Homo sapiens: one gene and its partners. The protein of the gene in region 4 interacts with the protein of the main gene of each other region in a pairwise test. Each region holds a gene or a part of one and is shown on either strand. Other genes may lie near its edges. The genes, in order: MRPS6, TFG, AFTPH and STAT5B.

The links.
Region 1: the proteins of STAT5B (region 4) and MRPS6 interact in binary tests that used the Homo sapiens proteins (3 or more experiments, as listed by UniProt).
Region 2: the proteins of STAT5B (region 4) and TFG interact in a two-hybrid assay, tested with the Homo sapiens proteins (one large-scale study listed by BioGRID and IntAct).
Region 3: the proteins of STAT5B (region 4) and AFTPH interact in a two-hybrid assay, tested with the Homo sapiens proteins (one large-scale study listed by BioGRID and IntAct).

What each region holds. Positions count from the first base shown.
Region 1 is NC_000021.9:34,117,208-34,122,850, reverse strand, and holds part of MRPS6 (small ribosomal subunit protein bS6m), read right to left. Parts: intron 1-5,643.
Region 2 is NC_000003.12:100,732,807-100,738,449, forward strand, and holds part of TFG (protein TFG), read left to right. Parts: intron 1-3,769; coding exon 3,770-3,910; intron 3,911-5,643. UniProt on the Homo sapiens protein: Plays a role in the normal dynamic function of the endoplasmic reticulum (ER) and its associated microtubules. Required for secretory cargo traffic from the endoplasmic reticulum to the Golgi apparatus.
Region 3 is NC_000002.12:64,551,056-64,556,698, reverse strand, and holds part of AFTPH (aftiphilin), read right to left. Parts: intron 5,595-5,643; exon of another isoform or gene 5,435-5,594; intron 5,257-5,434; 5' UTR 5,225-5,256; coding exon 3,290-5,224; intron 1-3,289. UniProt on the Homo sapiens protein: Component of clathrin-coated vesicles.
Region 4 is NC_000017.11:42,216,637-42,222,279, reverse strand, and holds part of STAT5B (signal transducer and activator of transcription 5B), read left to right. Parts: intron 1-2,437; coding exon 2,438-2,568; intron 2,569-2,816; coding exon 2,817-2,968; intron 2,969-3,401; coding exon 3,402-3,557; intron 3,558-3,949; coding exon 3,950-4,129; intron 4,130-4,815; coding exon 4,816-4,903; intron 4,904-4,997; coding exon 4,998-5,120; intron 5,121-5,643. UniProt on the Homo sapiens protein: Carries out a dual function: signal transduction and activation of transcription. Mediates cellular responses to the cytokine KITLG/SCF and other growth factors. Binds to the GAS element and activates PRL-induced transcription.

The DNA of each region.
Region 1 (5,643 bases), on a different chromosome or scaffold from region 4:
GCAGCACAGTATTTCATTTAACTGAAAATGCTGTTTCTTGACCTGGCATTACATCAATTAACGTATGATAAGGTAAAGGAACAGCCCATCCAAATAAAGAGTCGGGTCTCAGCTTTGCACTCAAAAAAAAAAAGGAAAAAAACATTTGATTGATTAGTTTTCTGATTAGCTACCCAAATAAATTTCAATTCCAGTTTTGCCTGATTAAAAAGGAATATATCTCAATATCTTTTAAGTTCCAACTGAAGTGTTTACAGTATAAAACTCATTACCCTCTTCTGAAGTAAGAGCTTATAAAGTAAAAAACATTTTCTTCTTACATCTGTCTCAAAAAGGGGAAAGGCTACCTAACAAGAATGTAACTTAGGAAAATATAAAAAAAAAAATTGTTTGACTTCAGTATGTCAAGGTCAAACTGTAGACTACTGGAATGGCCACATTCATCTCACTTTAATTTCAAAACACCCAGAAGTATAAAACGAAAGGTGGAAGGAGGAGCAAAAATAACGCCCCATAGACCTTACCTCACCATAAAGCAGGGTTGGCAAACCAGGGCTCTTGGGCCAAATCTGGCTTGCTACCTGTATTTGCAAATAAAGTTGAACTGGAACACAGCCAACTCACACATCTGCATAGTGTCTATGGCTACTTCTGTGCTAAAGGTAGATCTGTAATTACAAGAGACCACATGGCCCCAGAGCCTAAACTATTTACTATCTGGCCAACCCCTGGTTCTATATTGTGATGGGCTGAGGGAAGCTGGCAGGTCCTTAATCCATGTACCCTAAAATGCACCACAAATAAAACCATGAGCCTGGGCCACTGACTGACGTATAGAGGGTGTATTCCTCACTGGATGTGTCATCAGGTAGACACATCGGGTACCATCTAACGAATACCATCAGTTGAGCTGTTCAACTCACTGCAGGGCTCAGAACTGATTCCACTAATCCACTATTCCATCTGCCAAGCTCCTAATAATGTCTTTATCAACCCAGGTTGCCAACTTCAATGTTCCTCATTTGGTGAAACCTATAGATCTATTAAAATAAAATTCTTACGCTTAGAGGGGAAAAAGTTCTGCTCAATCCAGCACAATGTTCAACTTACAAAAGCATATAGTTTACAGGAAACAAATGATCTTGCTGCCATAATTCTCATTTATAAAGTCTCTGAACCACTCAATTCCAACTATTCTAAGAGAAGTTGTGCAGGCTTCTGAGAGGCTTCTCTCACCCCATCTGAAAGCAACTCCTTCAACTCTTTCCTTCTACCTACCAAATGCATCAATGAAACACACTTTGGCAAGGCACAGACTGAGGGCTGAAAACATTCATTTGAAAAAAAAATACAGAAAGAAAGGAATGAATGAATGGGAATGGAAACTAGAAAAACTAGGACTATGATTCTAGTCCTAGCTCATTCACTAATGAGTTATACAAACCTGAATATGTTATTAAAATTTATCAATTTTAAACTTGTACCTCAGTTTCCTCATCTGCTAAATTAGTAGTTCTCGATTTTCCTGTTGCTACAAGCTTCACATGAATAAACAACATTCATACTGCAATTCTCAACATCTGCTGGAGGCACAACAAAGTTTGATGAAAGTCTTTTTATGCCCCCCAATTCTGATATCTTCATCACCAAAATGCACCTCCATCCCCCAGTTCTCCTGATGTCATTCTTTTTTTACTTCTAACAGCACTACAGCAATCTAAAAATATTCTTTCACTAACCAGAATGTAAGCTACAGAGGAGCAAGGACCTTTGTCTATCTTGTACATGACTGTATTCCCAACGTCTAAAATGGGCCACACTCATCGAACAGGTGCTAGAAATAGCTGTGCTAATTGTACCTCCTTTAAGAGGGTCTCTTGCTTACTTACTCCTATCTTTCCTCAAGGAACTCTAAGTTTCCTTCTATCTCTAACATAACTTGAAGCCACTTTTCATATACAACAAAGCTCACTATCAAGGTGGTAACTGTAACACTGAGGCAAAATTACAATACTAATGTTTTCCCATTTACTTCACGCAGTACCAAAATGCTGTTCACACCAATACTGTATTTCAAAAATACCTACAATTCATCTAGAAGTGAAATTAATTAAATATTTTATACATTTCAAATATCAAATTCCAATACACATATAAATATAAATGTTAAAATTACATTATAATTATTTGCTGATTAGGTAAGATAAAGTACTATCCAAAAATTTAACGAAATAGTATAATACTTATAAAAAAGGTAATTAATCCTAGAAGAAATTAAAGCTAATTTTTTATATTAATTACCAAAACTAATGTTTAGCCTACAAAAGACTTAGGGAAAACCCAAGAGCTAACTTCAAATATTTGCAGGGCTATTATGCAAAAGGTAGATTTGTTTTATTTTGATTGGATTCCAAGAGTGGACTAGAATCAAAGGGTAAAAATTAGAGAAATCAAGCTGTATTTTGTAAACAAGAACATATTTCCAAAAATATACAGCTGTATGAAAATGCAGTGGGCTGCCTTGTGAAGTAGTGACCTTCCCATCACTTGAAGTACATAAATAGATACAGGATGGCTGTTGGATTAATATCTGCATGGGTGGGAGGTTGAACTCAACAACTTCTTAAAGCCCCTACCAAGACTAAATACTACTCTGGTACCACTCATCATTCTGAAGGACATTCTGCAGTGAAGCCAGTTTTGAAAACTGCAACTGCATAGCAATGAAGAATACACGTACTGCTAGGAAAAGTTAATGCTGCTGACTAGATTCATGCTAACGTACCAGCTGTTCTACTCACTACTGTTTTCACAATGATCTTCTAAAAGGGTCCCCCGTAAAGCCCAAGAGTCCTCAAACCATATTTTGAAAACCACAGTTCTAGAGATGCTAATGGGAAAAGTTGCTGTAGTAAAAGATGAGAGCAAAAAGGTGGGAAGAATGAAAGGAAGAAAGGAATCTCTCCTTGTCCCCCAAATAAAATCCCCACTCAGGAAGGTTACTGAAGCTAAGAATTCATGGAAGTATCATAACCACCACCACTAGTCAATGACCAACGTTTAACCTAATTAAACATATTTTCATCCCAGAAGAGAAACTTGTCAACAAAATTATCTTAGAAATTAGACTCTATGGGAAAGACAGTTTTAAGCCAGTGGCCTCCAATATACCCAGCTAGCACTACCACACCCTAGTTCCCCAGAAAATAAAGCACACATAGAATCCACAACATTCAACAGCATGCAGCATCTACCTACACCCTGCCCGCCTCACGTTACAAAGAGTTATACAACACTCAAGAGCAGGCAGGACTCAGGGAAGGTAGAGCCAAGACACAGAACTGTCAAAACCTGTGAAAATGTACATGTAAAAGTCTTTCCCATTCTTTGCTGAATCTTAATTCCAAATCTTACTTCCTTTAAAAAATTTCCTTGCAATTTAAATTTTCAAATAGAAAGGCTGTCCCTGTGAATTCTGCATTGACATTCTCACAGCAATCTGAAAATCTGTGAGCCCTAACTTTTCAACAGTCAAATGGGTGTCATGGAAAGTGGCTGAAGTTCTAGCAGACCTTGGGAGAACCATCTACATAAAAATATGTGAAGTGCCAGCCTTGCCTAATGACATAAGCAAAGCCCAACTATGAAATTGATTCCACAGGAACTGTTTGATCAAATATTCTTCATTGTAGAGAACCTCTTTTGCCCAACAATTTATTGAATCAGGAGTTTCAGTCCTCTAGGTAATTAAGGAATAAAAATTATCGAACACAGAAACTACTTTTTAAATTAGAATAAAATTCAATAAGGACAAGTCTAGAACACTAAGAAACATAAAGATGCCTAAGTACATGTTCAAATGTGATTACTTACCTCTACAGGCCTGAACCTGAAGTTATAACTTGAAGTGACTAGAAAAGTAACCTTTATAGGCTTTGTAAAGGTCAAAGATAGAAAACACTTATTAAAATTTAAATGCTGTACTCCTTTGCTTATGAATCATATTATATAGGCCATTTTTAAGAAACATGGAGTAGGCTGGGCACAGTGGTTCTTTCCTGTAATCCCAGCACTTTGGGATGCCAAGGCGGGCAGATCACTTGAGGCCAGGAGTTTGAGACCAGCCTGGCCAACATGGCGAAACCCCATCTCTACTGAAAATATAAAAATTAGCCAGGCGTGGTGGTGTATGCCTGTAGTCCCAACTACTCGGGTGGCTGAGGCTCAAAAATTACTTGAGCCAGAAGGAGGTTGTAGTGAGCTGAGACTCTGTCTCAAAAAAAAAAAAAAAAAGAAAGAAAGAAAGAAATGTGGAGTAACTAATGAATAAAGACTTAACAGGCTTTAAAACAGTAGGTAAATGGGAGGGGAAAGAAGAGACAGGAACCAAAATACAGTGACCCTGGAGCAATACAGGTTGAAACTGTGTAGGTCCACTTACAAGCGAATTTTATTCAATAAATATATTGGAAAAATTTTTGAAGAGTCACAACATTTTGGAAAAAAAAACTTGCTTTTTCTCTAGCTTACTTTATTGTAATACAGTATATAATACACATAACATACAAAATAACATTGGTAAGGCTTCCAGGTCAACAGTAGGCTATTGGTAAAGTTTCTGGGGAGTCCAAAGTTTACACACAGATTTTCAATTATGCATACCCCTACACTGTTCAAGGGTCTAACTGTACATAAAGTGTAGTAAGAAAATAATAGTGTAATGCAGAGAAAAACTCTTTGAATAAACCAATGCTGTGTGCTCTGCAAAAACAAAAATACCCCAAATTTTAAAATTTTTAAAATAATGTTGAAAAAAATACTGCAGATTCACAGGTCAGGCTTTTCAAGTGGTCATTTAATTGTCAGGCTATAGTGTAGAATCTTAAGAATTGCTTAAGTTAATATATTAACTAAAAAGCACTCGTGAATATGGTATTTATATAATCATCTTTCTGAGAAACAGTTACATGCGGGAAAACATCACGCATCTTTATGGGGAAGCCATTTTAAAATAACTTAAATGGCACAAGTCATTTAAGGAGATACATACATACACAGGAGATACATACATCCTGACACCTGCATGTGGAGTGAAAGGGCAAAGTGAATGATCTCTTATGGGCAGACCAAATTCTGCGGGTATCAGAAATGTAAGCTGAAACTTAGGAAATTGCCATTTTGGTTCAACTTAACATTTATCTGGAAACATTCTTCTCAAAGTGTCTTCCTCAAGACAAGTATGTCCAAGCTGCTCGCTAGGAAGCCCATCTCCAAAAGGGTAGCCGCAGGGAAATGGAACACCAAGTCCCTGTCCCTAAAAAGTCTGCGATACAGATAGGAAGACAGACACTTGTAAGTTACTAATAAAGGCAGATTCAAACACAGGCAATACTGATGTGAAAAGCAATGATGCCACAAGAACTCAAAAGAAGGAATTACTACTACTAACTGGTTGGTTGAAGAAAGCAGATTTCAGCCAGACCCTGAAAAATGAATACCCCGTCAGGAGGGAAAGAGGGCCACTTTGGGTGCTCTCAGAGTGGGTCTGAACTAACAGCAGACGAAAGGAAGGGAGAAAATTCTTATGAAATTTATATTTGGGGTAGAATCAACATGGGTACTGAATTTAGTATAGGTAGAAGC
Region 2 (5,643 bases), on a different chromosome or scaffold from region 4:
TTTTACATATGTGTACACTTATGTAAAAGACTAACTAGATTAAGATGTAGATGATTTCCAGCACTTCAGAAAGCTTTCTTATGTCCTCTCCCCAAGAGTAGCACCCTCCCCCTTAAAGAATAAGCACTGTTGGGTTCAAGTAAATTTTTGAAAGTAAAATTTAGAAAGTTTTTAAAAATCTGAACTATTTTATAATTTGATTAGTTGCAGTATTCGAATTATATTTGATTTGTCTTATCTCCTCATCTTAGAGAAATTGAAAATTAAATGTAGATTTTCTTGTTAAATTGCTTGAGTATACAGTGGGTTTTTATATAAATAAGTTTTTAACCTTAAAGCAGTACCTATATTGTTTTATTCTGTTTAACTTTTGGTTATAATTTCTTCATTATTTTTTCCTGCTTTTTCTCTTTTCGGATTCTAATAACACATACATTGGAGAGCTTGATACTGTCTCATGGGTCATTAAGGTTCATTTTTCTTCAGTCTTCTCTCTGTTCTTCAGGTTGGGTGATTTCTGTTGAACTCTTCAAGGTCGCTGTGATTTCTAATATGCTGTGGAACCTTTCTAGTGAATTGTTTAATTGTGCTTTCAGCTCTAGAATTTCCATTGGGTTTTTATAGTTTCTGTTTTTCTGTTGAGATTCTTTATTTTACATTCATTAAGTCTATATTTTCCTTTAATTGTTTGAATGTATTTATGTTTGATTCTTTAAAAATATTTAGCTGCTTTAAAATGTTTATCTGCAATATGTAACACTTGGACCCATTTGGAGTCAGTTTCTATTGACTGGGTTCCTCTCCCCCACACACACTCCCCCCAACTCCAGTAGGGTCACATTTTTCTGTTTCTTTGCCTGTCTGATAGTGTTTGGTTGAAAACTAGACATTCTGGTTAATATGTTGTAGTGACTTGGACTTATATTCTTTTGAGGATTTTCTGTTATTGTTGATCTAGCAGGGAGTTGATTTGTATGGACTTAACATAAATAACAAACAGAAAAGCGCTCTCTAAAAGAAAAAGGTATTTGGGAATAGAGCATTGCATTGAAAATATGCATGCCATAGTAAACTATGTGCATATTCAGTGAGGTAAAGGCAGACAAAGGTTTTTAAAGGAAAAAATGAGGAGAATATATAATTGTTTTGAAATAATTATTGTTGGCTACAAAGATCATTAGCAAGAGTGATGCCAGTCTGAGGTTGGACAGGCAGTTTCTGGGCAGATGTCCTCACAGTCACAGAAGTTTTTTTTTTTGCTTTTTTTTTTGCAAAGTTGTGATGGCCTTTGTGTAGGCTTGTGGTTTTTGAACTCTTTTGTGATAGTTTTTGCAAGAATCCTCTCTTCATGGCCTTATCAGAGTTTTTAATTTTTTTTTAACATTAATGACTTCATTTTGGTTTTGATAACTTTCACATACTCAAAACTGCTCCTTCTTTCTCCCTATGGTGTATAGCAGCTGATATGTATGCTCAGTCCTTTCAGCTTGCTCTAGGTGCTGCATTTTTCTCTGAGCCTTCTTGAGATATCCTCGTCTGCTCTCCCAGCCCTATAGTCAGCTGGGGATTTGGACAGAGTGTATATACCTAGATCGTGGGTCTTACCCTTTCAGTAGCACCTTCACTTCCGGGATTTTCCTCCTAAATCTTCAGCTGCTTGTCTAGCCATAAGGTTGTTAACACTGTGGTTTTCTGCCATTGGAGCTGCAGAGGTCAGCGCTTTTAATTCTTATCCATTCTAATTTTATTGGGGTAAACTCCTCTGGTTTCTGATTGACTTTCAGTTATTTCAAATAGTTTCTTTTGTTTTGTTCATGTTTTTAGTTGTTACCTGGGAGAGAGTTTATCTGATGGATTTACTTTGCCTTTATCAGTAGTTGGAAATGTGTACAGTCCATTTTGTATTTCTTAGAGACTTTCATGGAATTACTCACAAAAGAGAATTGTGTGAAAATTTGATGAGGTCAGACTTTTAAATTTTGATTTAAATGTAGTATATTCCAGACTAGAATAATATTAATATGATTCACATTATTTGAAGACCATTTTTCTCACAGCTTTGTATGTTGAATTATAGTAGGAAAAACTGTATGCATAGCTAGGATACTTTTGTAGTTCTTCAGGTGTGATGTGGTAAAAATGTGGCTTATTAGAATAATGAATGTGGCAGTGGGAAGGAGGGATAAAATATTACAAACATGGAATGAATATTAACTGTAATAAATTACATATAAGGGAGGAAAGAGGAGCCAAAGTAATAAATATATATATTTAGGCTAATAACAGTGTCTTTTGTGGGAAGAATGTGTGTATTTATCTACATAGATATAAATTTAAGTAAAATGGTGGTAGATAGAAACCATCATCCATTTTATTTTGGCAATCATCAGTCTCTCTTGCATTACCACTATTATATCCTAGTTTAGGTTCTTATTAATACTTGGACTGTCAGCTGTCAACTGTGCCTAATACTGTGGTAAGTTCTGGGGATACATCAGAGCAGAAGATAGAGGTTTGCCCTTAGAGAAATTAGTCTGCTGATAATAGCAAGTACTTATATGGAACTTTCTGAGTAGTAGTCACTTTTATAAGCTTTTGCTGTATAATTCCTTTTATAAGCCCATGCTATAAGCTCTTGTAAACTCATAATCCTCACAATAACCTTATCAAGTAGGAATTAGTATATCCTTTGTACAGATGAGGAAACTGAGGCACAGAAAGAGATTATGTAACATGTCCAGAGTTACACAGCTAGTGAGTGACAGCACTAGGATTTGAACCTGGGTAGTCTAGCTCCAAAACCTATGCTTTTAACCACTCTTCTGCATTGCCAAAGCAGAAAGAATTTAAAGGAATAAGACATATTTACATTGTCCTCAGAATATCTTTTTTGACTGTCACAGCATTGGAACTGTAATATATTCTCTCCATTCATTTCTGTGTTCATTATTTTGTAAGAATTATAGTGGCTCCATATGTAAGTTAGAGTGCTAGGCCTTGTTCGGCAGACAAAAAGAATCAACAGTCAGGAGCCCGGCCAAAAGAGTGCAGAGTCTTTAAGAGGGAAAGTGAGAGCTATTCAGAAATGCAAAGTAGAAGTCAGTATGAGTTAACAAAAGTAAACTAGATAGAAGTTCACTAGTAGAAAAAGTATTCATGAGTCAAGAAGGCTTACTAGAAGTGTGGAATTATAATTGGATTTTAAATAATGTTATATTTAAATATGTGAATGTTATATTTAAATATATGGGATCTAGTGGGAGAGAAATAGAGGTCAAAAAAATATTAGCTATGTTATGGGAGTAGGGAGAAGGTTAGTTTAGCTGAAAGGGAGGCATGTGAGAAGAGAAATTGTGAGAAATAATGTTTGGACCCTTAATGCCAAACTAGGAGGTTGAACTTAATTTATGGTCAGTGAAGACCCCTTGAAGAATGAAGTGACAATTTTGGTTCCTGTGCAGAATACATTGCTTGGAGTAGGGGGATATTGGCATTGCAGACATGAGTTTTGATTTTTGCAGGGAGAGGTTAAGACTCAGGAATATAGTACTCTACACTTTATAAGGAAGGAGTTCCAGTTGTAGCTTTGGATTAAGAGATTGGAGCAAAGGAAAAAATAAAGTACATACATTTAATGTAAAAAGGCGTATTTGTGGTTATATACTTATTCTATAGTACTTTTAGTATCTTTTAACCAAACTTATTCCTTGAGCTTGCTGGGGGAAGGCCTTGTGTTGGATACTAAACTGACTTTTTTTTGACTATCCAGGGCCACCCAGTGCTCCTGCAGAAGATCGTTCAGGAACACCCGACAGCATTGCTTCCTCCTCCTCAGCAGCTCACCCACCAGGCGTTCAGCCACAGCAGCCACCATATACAGGAGCTCAGACTCAAGCAGGTCAGATTGAAGGTAAAATAGAGTTTAGAACACATGTTTGGGAAAGTACATGTGTAGAAGTGTTTATTACAGCATTGTTGTAAACACTTCATGTATTTAGTCATGCCTTAAACACAGGAAAAATTTTGATTTACTGACATGATTTGATGTTAAAAAACCAAATAGAACAATATGTCAGGTATGTTTCCAATTATTGGAATGAAAAAAATACCTCAAAAAAGTGTTTCTATGAATATAGATACAGAGTGAAAGACCAGTCATTAGTCAGTGGTGACCCTTGGAGGGGAGGATAGTGAAGTTCAGACTGGTGATTTCACACTTTATTTTGTGTTATAGATGCTATTTTATCTCCCTCCTTTCTTCAACATCTGTGCATGATTTTTCTAATTTAAAAAAGATTTCTGAATAGAGGTAAAGGATAACTTTAGTTGTAGTGGGTTTTTTTTGTTAAGATTAGTAGCCTTTTATAATTTTGTAAATTTAGCAATATGTCTTTAATGGAAAAAAAGCAGTGTATTTTAAGTCAGACTTTTTCTTCTGAAATAATCTGTCCTTGGATATGCAGTTTAGTCTCTCTGGGTTTTGATATTCTTTCACTGTAAAATGTGAAAACTGGACTGAACCCAGTGGTTTCAAAAGAATGTCTTTAGTTCTGAATGAAATATAACCTGAAAGCTCCATATTTAAAATAGGGGATTGAAGGGCAACAGACTTCACACAGCAGGCACTAAGGTGCCTCATTGAAAACCTTGGAGTTCTGCAGAATGTGACTAAGTACTTAACTAATCTCTAGGGTGCCTTCCAGATAATGAAGTGTGATTTTTGTATTGTCTATGTGTGTTGGGACCTTTAAAGCCGCATTCCACTTCAAAACAAACACCAGGTGGTGCTCTAACTATTTGTTTAACGGGTCAGATAGTGGTATAATGTATTTCCAGCCCCAGAAGCAAGTGATTAAGGTTATCAATTACATTAAAACAAAAACAAAACATAGGCTAAAATGAACTGACCACTTTTGGAATAGAATCCTATCATCCTGTGGTGATACTTTCAGAGTTACCTGGCTAGGTGTGGTGCCTCACGCCTATAATCCCAGCACTTTGGGAGGCCGAGCCAGGAGGATCACTTGAGCCCAGGAGTTTGAGACTAGGCTGGGTGACATAGTGAGACCCTGTCCCTACAAAATAAAAAAAGATTTAAAAAAATTAGCCAGGTGCTATGGCATGTGCCTATAGTTCCAGCTACTTGGGAAGCTGAAGTGGGAGGATTGTTTGCATTGTTGAATTGAAGTGGGTGGTCTAGGCTGCAGTGAGCTGTATCACTCCACTGCACTCCAGCCTGGGCAACAGAACGAGACCCTGTCTCAAAAACAAACAAAGCCAAAAAAAAAAAAATCCACAGAGTTGTCTGTTGGATGAACACCAGTCATTATGGACTAGCAGGTGACATTTTGCTGATGAATCAGTGGTTTGCGAAGAATTTCTTATTGCTTAAGCCTTTTCTCAACCAACTTTAATTAACTCCTCCTCTGCACCAAAATGCTACTGCCAAAACTAGAACAAACTAGAACTAAAGCAGATGTCAGCTGAAATGGACAAAAGCAGAGTATAGGTATGATGAGAGTTTAATGCCTACATCAAGCGAACTAAAGATTTGTTTTTAAATAAATCCCATTTTAAGCAGTGTATACTGTGATACAATGACAGTTGGAAGGATCATTGTACCAAATAATGTTTGCTGTTTAT
Region 3 (5,643 bases), on a different chromosome or scaffold from region 4:
AATTATTGCACTAACCCCAACGAAGACATATTTATTAACATTTTAAGATATCTTTTTGGTGGGCTAAAAACAGGAAAGTGCTAAGAAATGGGGACCTGGACAATGTCACATACCAAATAGTGAAAAGTGGAAGAAATCTGAAATGACCAACTATACCATTTGTCTGACTTCACAAAACAAAGATTTGTTTTCCATGCTTGTTTAATCAAACAAATTAAATCAAATTGCCATGTTTGTTTAATTAAGCTCTGAATTCTAAAACACGTTCTGTCAAAGCAAAATTCGGACAAAACCACTTGATGGCATTTTGTTCAGGACACTTGTGGCATCCGGGTAAGATTGAACAGAAATAAATCATTTCAACTTTTACCACTAAAAAACTTAATGCTTACTGTTATTAATATGTGAGGAGGCTAGGCACGGTGGCTCACGCCTGTAATCCCAGCACTTTGGGAGGCCGAGCCGGGTGGATCACCTGAGGTCAGGAGTTCGAGACCAGCCTGGCCAATATGGTGACACTTCATCTCCAATAAAAGTACAAAAATTAGCCGGGCGTGGTGGCATGGGCCTGTAGTCCCAGCTACTAGGGAGGCTGAGGCAGGAGAACTGCTTGAACCCGGGAGGCGGAGGCTGCAGTGAGCTGAGATCGTGCCACTGCACTCCAGCCTGGGTGACAGAGCAAGATTCTGTCTCCAAAAAAAAAAAAAAAGTGAGGAATTCGTGCTGTTCCAAACACTGTCCGGAGCAACTAGGGAAAACATTTTAAGAAAAATACTAATAAATCTAATCCTCTCCAAAAGGGCTAAATTAATGCACTCTTCTAGCAGAATCTGAAGCCCAAGAAATAAAGTGCCAGCCGCAATTCTCTTTCACAACAGCAGGGTAAGAACGAGAGTCTTTGTTCAATCTTTCTCCACTTCTGACTCAGTCACTTACTCAGCAGGGTTTATCCATTTCACTACTTCAACTTTCTTCCCAAACTTCTTCTGGCCTCCTCCAGCAGTTTCTCTTTCCCAACATCCAAATTCTGTTCATTTTCCATAACCCATTAGCAAAAATAGAAGCATGAGGCCTTAGCCAAACAAATCCAAGAAAGTCTTGTGTGTGTGTGTGTGTGTGTGTGTGTGTGTGTGTGTGTGTGTGACAGTCTCTCTCTGTAGCCTAGCCTGAAATGCAGTGGTGTGATCTCGGCTCACTGCAACCTCCACCTGCTGGGTTCAAGTTATTCTCCTGTCTCAGCCTCCTGAGTAGCTGGGATTACAGATGCACGTCACCACGCCCAGCTAATTTTTGTATTTTTAGTAGAGACAGGGTCTCACCATGTTGGCCAGGCAGGGCTAGAACTCCTGACCTCAAGTGATCCACCCACTTCAGCCTCCCAAAGTGCTGTGATTACAGGCATGAGCCACTGCACCTGGTCTCAGAAACTCTTAATGCATCTTGCCCCATCTATAGTTTGTTTTATTTTTATAAAAAAAAGAATCATACTATAAAATTCTTATTTTCTAGCAGATTATTTCACTCATTTTAAAATTTCCTTTTATATTCACAAAAGTTCTTTGAAGTAGGTATTACCTTCTTTGTATATACAGCTGAATTCAGAAGTAACCTATCCAAAAATCATAAGGCTTTTTAAGAGGCTGGGTCAAAATTCAAACTCAGATCTGTCAGATTCCATGAAGCCCATACGCTTTATTATCTCCTATATCCAGTTATCAAATTATACATAAATAACTTCAATCAACTTGTATGATGCAAGAAATTCCTACTTGAGTGGTCACACTTTAAAAAATTCATTATCTGATGATGTTAAAAGTTCTAAGGCTACAAATTAAAGATCACCCAATACCAGTGTCACCCTATCCTCTAGTGAGATGAAACTAAATAGGGAAAGGGTTAGGTCAAAAGCAACAGTCCTCATTTAGCATCATAATTAGTTCACTTCTTGTTTAAAATGGCAAGGTTCTGCCTAAATAATGAACTGCTCAATAGGAATAATACACATTAGCTAAACCATGTAATAACTGAATTAGCAAATTAAACTACTTTGACACAAAAGCCAACTAAAAAGCGATTAGCTATGCACACCAACTGGTAATACCATAATTTCTCTAATATCTTACTGTCTCAAAGTTATCAAGGCAATGAAATATAAGTATTTCAATTACAAAGACTTTGGAAAGATTTCCAGTTGAAAATGGTTTTCTTAGCAGAAGATAACTGGAGAAATAAAGTTTGTAGATTCTGAGTTTATTAACAGTATATTTAAAATAAGCTTGTGGATCAGGTGTTAGTTACATATATCAATTGTCAGTATAAGGCAGTGAGGTTCAAGGGAGTGCCCTCTTCCACACCCCTGGAGTTGAAAAAAGGTAAAGTTTAGCACAGAGTAGAACTCTGGACTGGGGAACAACCTAGATATCAAGCTACACCTCTAGGGGCTACTTTAGGTCAAAGTGAATCTTAATGAATCTTTTCTGAAAGAGTCTGAATCAAAAAAGGATAATGTATAGGAGGTAAGGGGTAAAAATATTCTCCCTGACACACCTACTCTCTAGGAAGAGCTAACAAGTACATTTGTAAGAAAGTATAGGCAAATAAATACAACTACAATAAGTGAACCTATAGTTATTTCTTATTTTAGGACTAAACCTTAATTCATCTCATACCCTCACCCCAAGTCTTTTAGCAGCTGCTAAATTATGAGGAAAAAGAAAAACTTGCTTTTTTCTAGTTGTTTTTCTGTTCTTCAATTCACTATAGCCTTTGGCACAGAATGAGGTTTCAAATTCTGCTTGTTCTCTCCTGGAATCAAAACCGTACTTGAATTTCCTAGGTCTTTGATGGAAAAAATTAACATTCTATTCTTAAGCTTAAAAAAAAAAAGATCCAAATCTCAGTTTAACCTTCTTTTAAAATCACTGTAAAGGGTAATACTGAAGGATTGACTGGAACCGTCAATTAGGTAATAAGTGTGGGTTTTTTTTTTTTTTTTTAACATATATGGTATTTATAGTCACCAAAAAATCCAAGTTGATGAGTATCTGTAAATATTAACGAAACTCATTGAGATAAAGAAAAATCTTACTGCGCTTTACTATAGGACTATTTGTAGTTTCCCAAAGGGTTGTGAAAAATGTAACCAACCCACAAATCAGACAGGCATTATACATCATAACGAGACTCCTTTAACAAGTACTCAGTTGAAAAAATATTTTTTGAAAAGCTGAAATTAGAAGCCTCCACAACAATTAATACATCATACAAAATAGAGAAAATTAGTAAATACCTGAACTGAAGTGGCTGATTCCTGTAAATGGCCACTAGCAACTGCTCCTTTGGAAGTTGCTGAAGGTACACTGTGCGTTTTGGGGGTTCCTGGAGTATCAATATTTTCATCTGTCCTATGTGACTGCCAGGCTTCCTTTCGATGATGAGATTCAGTAGCCTGCTGGTCTCCAAAAGCAGCCCAAGAACAACTATCTTTTTGTTCATCCTCAAAAGCATTCCAATCTACAACTTGGCTAGGACCAGCTGAACTGAAGTCTGCAAAATCATCAGAGTCTTGAAAACCATTGCAGTCATCCTGAATATTTGGCACAGAATCAAAATGTCCAATCTCACCTTCTTGCCCATTTTTAAGTTTTGCAACAGGTTCAGTGCCTGTTCCACTAGATTTTCTTGCCAATTGACATTCTTCTGATAAATTATCAGAAGTCTGTTTTAGGTCTGACTTTGTTAATATTGTCTCCTCTTGGCAAGAAACAGCATTTATATCCCCAAATTCTCCAAAGTCATCACCTGGTTCACTAAAATGTGGAAAGTGCTCTGAAGACTCTTCAAAAGTGGCATCACTCATTGAATCTTGAGTACCAGTAACAAAAGGTGGAGTTGAGCCACTGGCAGAGCCAAAGTCACCAAAATCACCAAAATCATCTTCATTGATATCATTGCAAGTCACAAAGTCATTACTACTATCACCATTTTTTACACTTAAAGAATCATCCAAATCATTTTCTTCTGTGGGGTCAATGTTTGGGCTTTGGAAATTAGTAAACTTTCTACTTTCTTCTTTGGGAGAACCAACTTCATCATCAGAAGTTTTAACAGAATCCATGCATAGGTGAGCACATTTAGAAGTAAGTAAGTCAAGTTTTTCTTCAGTTTTACATTGTTCTCTCCTAATGGCTTCTGAATTATCAGCTGAGTCTACCAAACTCCAAGCCTTTGACTGAACACCTGACTGTAAAAATTCATCCTGTTGCAGTGTTGGAAGGCCTTGTTTTTCAACACTGAAACCTCTGTTAGTCACTATGCTTATTTCTGAAACACAAACCTGATCCTCTCCATCAGTGTCTCCTTTGTTATCCAAGCTTCTACCCAAAGCCACTTCTTTTACAGAATTCAGTTCATTGACTCTATTAATTTTATTGTTTTCCCGAATGGTTAGTGCTTCTCTATCATTTAAAACTGCACATTCTATTTCTTCTAATTGTATCCTTTCCTTTTTGGAAAATGTGGCAAAATCTGCAAATTCCTCAGCAGGACTAGGTACAGAGTCTAAATTATACTCAGTGCTATGAGTGCTAAGAGGCTTCCGTCCCTTTGAATCAGCTACATTGTCCAGATCATCTGTTCCCTGAGGATTTACAGTTTCCAACACTGCAAACCCATTTGTTAGAATCTCCAGACAAGGAGGCTTTTCACCATTGCAGCTCTCTAACTGCTTGTTTTGATGAACAACATTCATATTAGTTCTAAAATCTCCTGGAGAGAAACTTTCAAGTGTTCCAACATTCTGTCTCTGCTCCACTACTTTATTTAAATTTCCTGGTCTTTCCATGCCATCAATGGAAGTAGCTAACATTTCAGATGAAATTATTTCTTTGCTGGTGGTAGAAAGTAAAACATCAGACTGTCCTTTCACAGGAGCAGAAAGTTCAGCAGTGATGTCCTTATCATTACCATTTTTAATGGACTTAAAGCTTGTAAGGCTATCTACATTTTCTGAGAATTCATGAATTGGCATAAAATGGTTTGAAGGTACAAACTCTTCCTTGGGACGAGTATAATCTGGTGTATCGAAATCAACAAACCCTACACCAGAAGGGCTAACTTCTGAAAACCCACCAAATTCCCCAAATTCATCATCATCATCATCCTCTGCTCCATTGTCTAATGGTGGTGGGGATGAAGAGTACATTCGAATGATGTCTGGCTCCATTGTTCAGTTGCTTTCAAATAATTAATTTACACCTGTAAAAAAGAAAAAAAGAATTTTTGGAGGGGACAGATTACATAGAACAAGATCTTTCAAAATTCTCTCAAAGCTACTTTAAAACAATGCAAATTTACAATGCTCTATTTTGTCTCCTTTTTTCCTTGACCATGTCCTGCATGATGTTTTGTATCTTTTAATCTATTTTTCTCTTAGGTGCAATTACTTTACACAGCTATAGTGCACTGGAAAAAAAAAAAGTTCTCTTAGACTACATGTTACCAAGAGCACTGGTAGTACATTAATGAAATGTGGGGATTCCAGATAATTCTGAATATACACTTACAAAAGTACAGCTACAAAATTCTCTCCTGGGGTAAGTGCTTATTCTGTTAAGTTCTCCTTCAATTCATTAAGGATTCAGT
Region 4 (5,643 bases):
CTCTCTGCTTCCATGCCCAGCTCAGTCTCAGAGAAGCCTTGGCTCAACCACCCAGCCCCTCCAAACACACACACACACAGCACACACAGACAACACAGCACACACACACACCACACACATCACACACACAGCACACACACACACAGCACACACACCCCCCACAGCACACAGAGACACACAGTGCACACACACAGCACACACACACCACACACAGCACACACACAGACACACAGCACACACACACCACACCACACACACCACACCACACACAGCACACACACACCACACCACACACAGCACACACACACCACACATAGCACACACACACACCACACATACACACCACACACACATAGACACACAGCACACACACACACACACAGCACATGCTCCTCTAATTCCATGTATGTAGGTTCCATTTTATGTCTATAGTGATACTACTTATTTACTCTTTATCTTCTCCACTGGAATATAAATCTTTGAGAAGGGACTATATCTTTTATCTCTGTACCCTGAGGCCAGCACAATGCCTGAAACATAACAGTTATTGAGTAAAGGTTGACAGGATGATTCTAGCCTGTCTTCCTTTTTTATCTGAATCCATCCTAGACTGGCCCTAGAAGAAGGGCAGCTCCTTCAGAGAATGGAAACGGAAGATTTGGGATGGCTATTCCTACCCAAGTCCTTAGACTGTCAACAGTATTTCTGATCCCGTGCCTGGCTTTTCTGTTTCCTGTGCATGGTGGCGGATTAGGTTTGGATTCAGGTTGGGTTTGGATCTATCACGCAGTGTCTTCTCAGTCCCATTTGTCAAGTTCACTCAGCAGAAACACAGACTATTGATCTGCTTTTGCCAGGGAAGGCTCAGCTGCCTCCAGTGGAGTAGGGAAATTGCTTCCCGTCTCCCTGGCCTCCTTCCCAAAAGCTTCTGCAAATTTCCAGGAGAGCCCTAAGTGGGTCCCTTGCATAGGAAGGCTGGGCCCAGGTGTTGGGATCACCACCACCCTCCCTGTGGCTGGGCAGGATTCCTGAGGTAGCCGTGCAGATACCTTGGATCTGTCCGTCCCTGGATGATCCTCTTCCTGCTCGATACCTGCAGTGAGATTGGAGCCATATTTCTGAGTTCTAGCTCTGGGCTGTTCCTGGCTACATAGAGTTGCTTTTGTCTGTCCCAGCTTGTGCATCCCATGGGTCAGGGCTGGGGTCAGAGTGACGTGGCCCTCAGGGGCCAGCCAGGAGCTCGACCAAGACATGCTGGTGCGCGCATCTTCTGACTCAGCTCAAGCAAGGACTCTGGGCTGTTGAGAAGGTGATGGGAAGGGATTAATAGTCCCAGTGTGGTGGAGACGGGCTGTCGCTGGGAGGGTGGGGTGGGCCTGCGGTGGTGGTTGTAACTGTGGACATGTTTACTTTCTTAGCCTGGGTTATTGATACACAGGTGCTCCTGTGTTCCACGTTCCCTGTGTCTTACCTATTTCATAATAATTTTTAAAAGGTAATGAGGCCTAACTTACTCCCTGTCCCGCCATCAATGAGACTCCTCACAGATGGTGTGGAGGGAAGCCGCCTCCCTTCGGCCTCCCTTTCCTGAGAGAATCTTGGTGGCTCTGCATCCCCAGTGGCCCTGGACATGCTCTCCCTCTGCGGTCTGTCTGTCTGTCCGTGTTCCCTGGTTGGTTGGCTGGGTTCACAGTGAGCTCACCTGGACAAACATGCTGGGCCCCTTCCAGCCTCTCAAGAATCTCATCCTCCCCTGAGGAGGGATTGCTGTGCTCAGGGACTAGACAGAGCCGCCGGGGCTGGGTTTCCCTGAAGAGGCCTTGCTGCGGGAGGGATGGGGCCGAGCAGCTGCTTGTCTCTGTCACCTCTTCTCTCTGTCCTGTTCCCCGTTAACCAAGAAGCACGAACCTCACACAGAGCTCACCCATGTCAGGCAGCTTTCTGGCATCTTCCATGTCCTCATGTATTTAATCTTAATGCACCCCACTGAGGCAGGTGCCGAGAATCTCCCGTTTTACACGTGGGGAAGCCAAGGCACAGGAAAGGAAAGCGATTTGCCCAGGTTCACCTGCAGTCAAGGGCATGGGCACACTTACACCCCAGACAGCCTGGACCCATGCTGGGCCGCGAGAAGAGGGCTGGCAGCCCTGTGAGGCAGGCGGGCAGGAGGCAGGCAGGCCTCCTCCCCAGCTGCCCCAGCACCCGTGTGCCCCCAGAGGGGACGGCTCAGAGTCAGGAGGCTGGCGAGCAGGGCCCAGAGGCGCCTCCTGGGGCACCCATTCATCTTGGCCCCCCTGGCTGTCAGGAACCCCGACTTGCCCTTAATGCAGTATCTGAGCCCAGGAGGGTCTCGCTCCAGAACGGGTGAGTGGGCTTCTCTGGGCCTCCTGTTGGACACTGGGAGGTGATGGTCATGGTTTCCTCTCCCCTCCTCTAGCTCAGTTTGGCCCGCTGGCCCAGCTGAGCCCCCAGGAGCGTCTGAGCCGGGAGACGGCCCTCCAGCAGAAGCAGGTGTCTCTGGAGGCCTGGTTGCAGCGTGAGGCACAGACACTGCAGCAGTACCGCGTGGTGAGTGGGGTCCTGGGCCTCTCCTGGGCGTGGGTGCCATGAAGTCAGTCTCTGGGGACCCGAGGGAGGGCTGGGACCAGCATGAGAGCAGAACCTGGGAGGGCAGGAGGCCTTTTTTCCTGGGGGCCTTGCGAGGCAGAGCAGCTTGGGGAGAGGGAACGGCCTGGGCCCTGCCCTGCCATTTCCCAGCGAGGCCCTGCGGTGTTCTCTGGGAGCCCAGAAGGGGCTGCTCTCCTCCCTTCCCTCAGGAGCTGGCCGAGAAGCACCAGAAGACCCTGCAGCTGCTGCGGAAGCAGCAGACCATCATCCTGGATGACGAGCTGATCCAGTGGAAGCGGCGGCAGCAGCTGGCCGGGAACGGCGGGCCCCCCGAGGGCAGCCTGGACGTGCTACAGTCCTGGTAATGGTGTGGGGCGGCCAGCGGGCAGGGCAGGAGGGGCTGGTGGGGATCCCGGCTGCTTCTGCGTCCTGTGCTGGCTCCTGCAGCAGGCCCCCTCCATCCTGGGACAGCTCTTGTTTCTCCAGGGAGCCTGGTTCCTCAATCAGACTTTGGCCCCCATCCTGTGCACCTCCCCCAGGAAGGGGGCTGCTGTCCTGGAGATGGGACAGGGTTCGGGTGTGTGGGGTGATGCTTGGGCTGTTTGGGCCTAGTCAGGGTCGCCCCTCCTGTGTACGTCTCTAATTCTGGGAGGCAGGGAGCTCTGCTCTTCCCATGGGTGGGAAGTGTGGCGAAAGCACAGAGCCTTCCTGGGGGAACGGGAGCTGTGTCTTGGGGCCTGGCGTCTGTGCGGAGGAGCCATTGTCCTCCTGTTGGCCTTGGGGCTCTCGTGCAGGTGTGAGAAGTTGGCCGAGATCATCTGGCAGAACCGGCAGCAGATCCGCAGGGCTGAGCACCTCTGCCAGCAGCTGCCCATCCCCGGCCCAGTGGAGGAGATGCTGGCCGAGGTCAACGCCACCATCACGGACATTATCTCAGCCCTGGTGACCAGGTGACTGCTGCCTGTTTGCCATGCCCAGGAGCTTGGGGCAGCTCCTGCCTGCGTGGGGGGAGCCGCAGGTGCCTTCCAGACCAGCAGATCCACTTCCTGCCTCTCATCCCTCCCAACTCCATCTCCAGTTGCTGTGGCCCTTGCCCAGTTTCTCCTGTGGACACTGCAAGAGATGCCCTTGGGCTGCAGCCCATGCCAGCTTCTGTGTTATCTCACTCCCCTCTCCATCCTCTCCCTGGACTCTCACGGCTTCCCCAGGAACAGAGGCTGTGCCCGAGCTCTTCACCTCCTGAGCCCCTCGGGAGGCAGCCCCACCCCCACCACAGAGGGACTGAGAGCCCTTTCCCCTGCACCAGCCCCTCATCATGCATCTGTCCCTGTGTCCCCTGCAGCACGTTCATCATTGAGAAGCAGCCTCCTCAGGTCCTGAAGACCCAGACCAAGTTTGCAGCCACTGTGCGCCTGCTGGTGGGCGGGAAGCTGAACGTGCACATGAACCCCCCCCAGGTGAAGGCCACCATCATCAGTGAGCAGCAGGCCAAGTCTCTGCTCAAGAACGAGAACACCCGCAAGTAATTGTGCAGCTTCCTCTCATTCCCTGCTACTTGTCTCATGTCCTGGCAACAGGAAAAAAAGAATTCTGCCTCCTGTGTCAGATCCCTGTTTGCCCTTCTGGCCTCTTCTGGGCATCAGCAAAGGAATATAAGGAAGTTCTTGGGCCTGGTGTGGTGGCTCACACCTGTAATCCAAGCACTTTAAGAGGCCGAGGTGGGCAGATCACCTGAGGTCAGGAGTTCAAGACCAGCCTGGCCAACATGGTGAAACCCTGTCTCTACTAAAAATACAAAAAATTAGCCGGGCGTGGTGGCAGGCACCTGTAATCCCAGCCACTAGAGAGCCTGAGGCAGGAGAATCCCTTGAACCTGGGAGGCAGAGATTGCAGTGAGCTGAGATTGCAGTGAGCTGAGATCACGCCACTGCACTCCAGCCTGGGCAACAAGAGCAAAACTCCGTCACAAAAAAAAAAAAAAAAGTTCTCTTAGGAACTGTTTTCTGTGAAGATAGTTTGATCTTGTTTCATTTTGTAGAGATACGTCCGAGAAGATTACATGTATGTGTTATGTAGCTAACATTTCCTCTAAATGACGTACATTTTTAGCAAACTTCTCTATTTCCTGCTACCCCAAATTATATTATTTACTCCGCATGTCCTGAGACCCTGGCATGGGTTTGGAGCTGGTCTCTCTCTGATTTGCAGTGATTACAGTGGCGAGATCTTGAACAACTGCTGCGTCATGGAGTACCACCAAGCCACAGGCACCCTTAGTGCCCACTTCAGGAATATGGTGAGGGTGGAAGAAGAGGAAGAATGAATTTTTCCCTGGTCTTTGAGGGGAACAACTTATATCTTACGTTTCATCTTATGTTTCTTCTTTGTAGTCCCTGAAACGAATTAAGAGGTCAGACCGTCGTGGGGCAGAGTCGGTGACAGAAGAAAAATTTACAATCCTGTTTGAATCCCAGTTCAGTGTTGGTGGAAATGAGCTGGTTTTTCAAGTCAAGGTAAAGCCTTCCCTCAGCTCTGCGTGTGCGTGTGCGTGTGTGTGTGTGGTGTACTTTATGTTACAAAATATTTTTTTTTTATCACATAGCATCTTCTTCTTTTTGACTGTTGGTAAACTGAAAATGGACTGACCTCACCCTGAGAACTGTTTCACTTAGGTTCTCTTAAGACATGAACAGAGGCCAAGCACAGTGGCTCATGCTTGTAATCCCAGCACTTTGGTAGGTTGAGGCAGTCAGGTCACTTGAGGTCAAGAGTTCAAGACCAGCCTGGCTAACACAGTGAAACCCCATCTCTACTAAAAAGTACAAAAATTAGCCAGGCGTGGTGGCACGTGCCTATAATCCCAGCTACTCAGGAGAATCACTTGAACCTGGGAGGCTGAGGTTGTAATGAACCGAGATTGTGCCACTGCACTCCAGCCTGGGTGAAAGAGTGAGACCCTGTCTCAAAAAAAAAAAAAAAAGACATGAACAAGCAAGGCCCAGTGCAGTGGCTCACATCTGTAATCCTAACACTTTG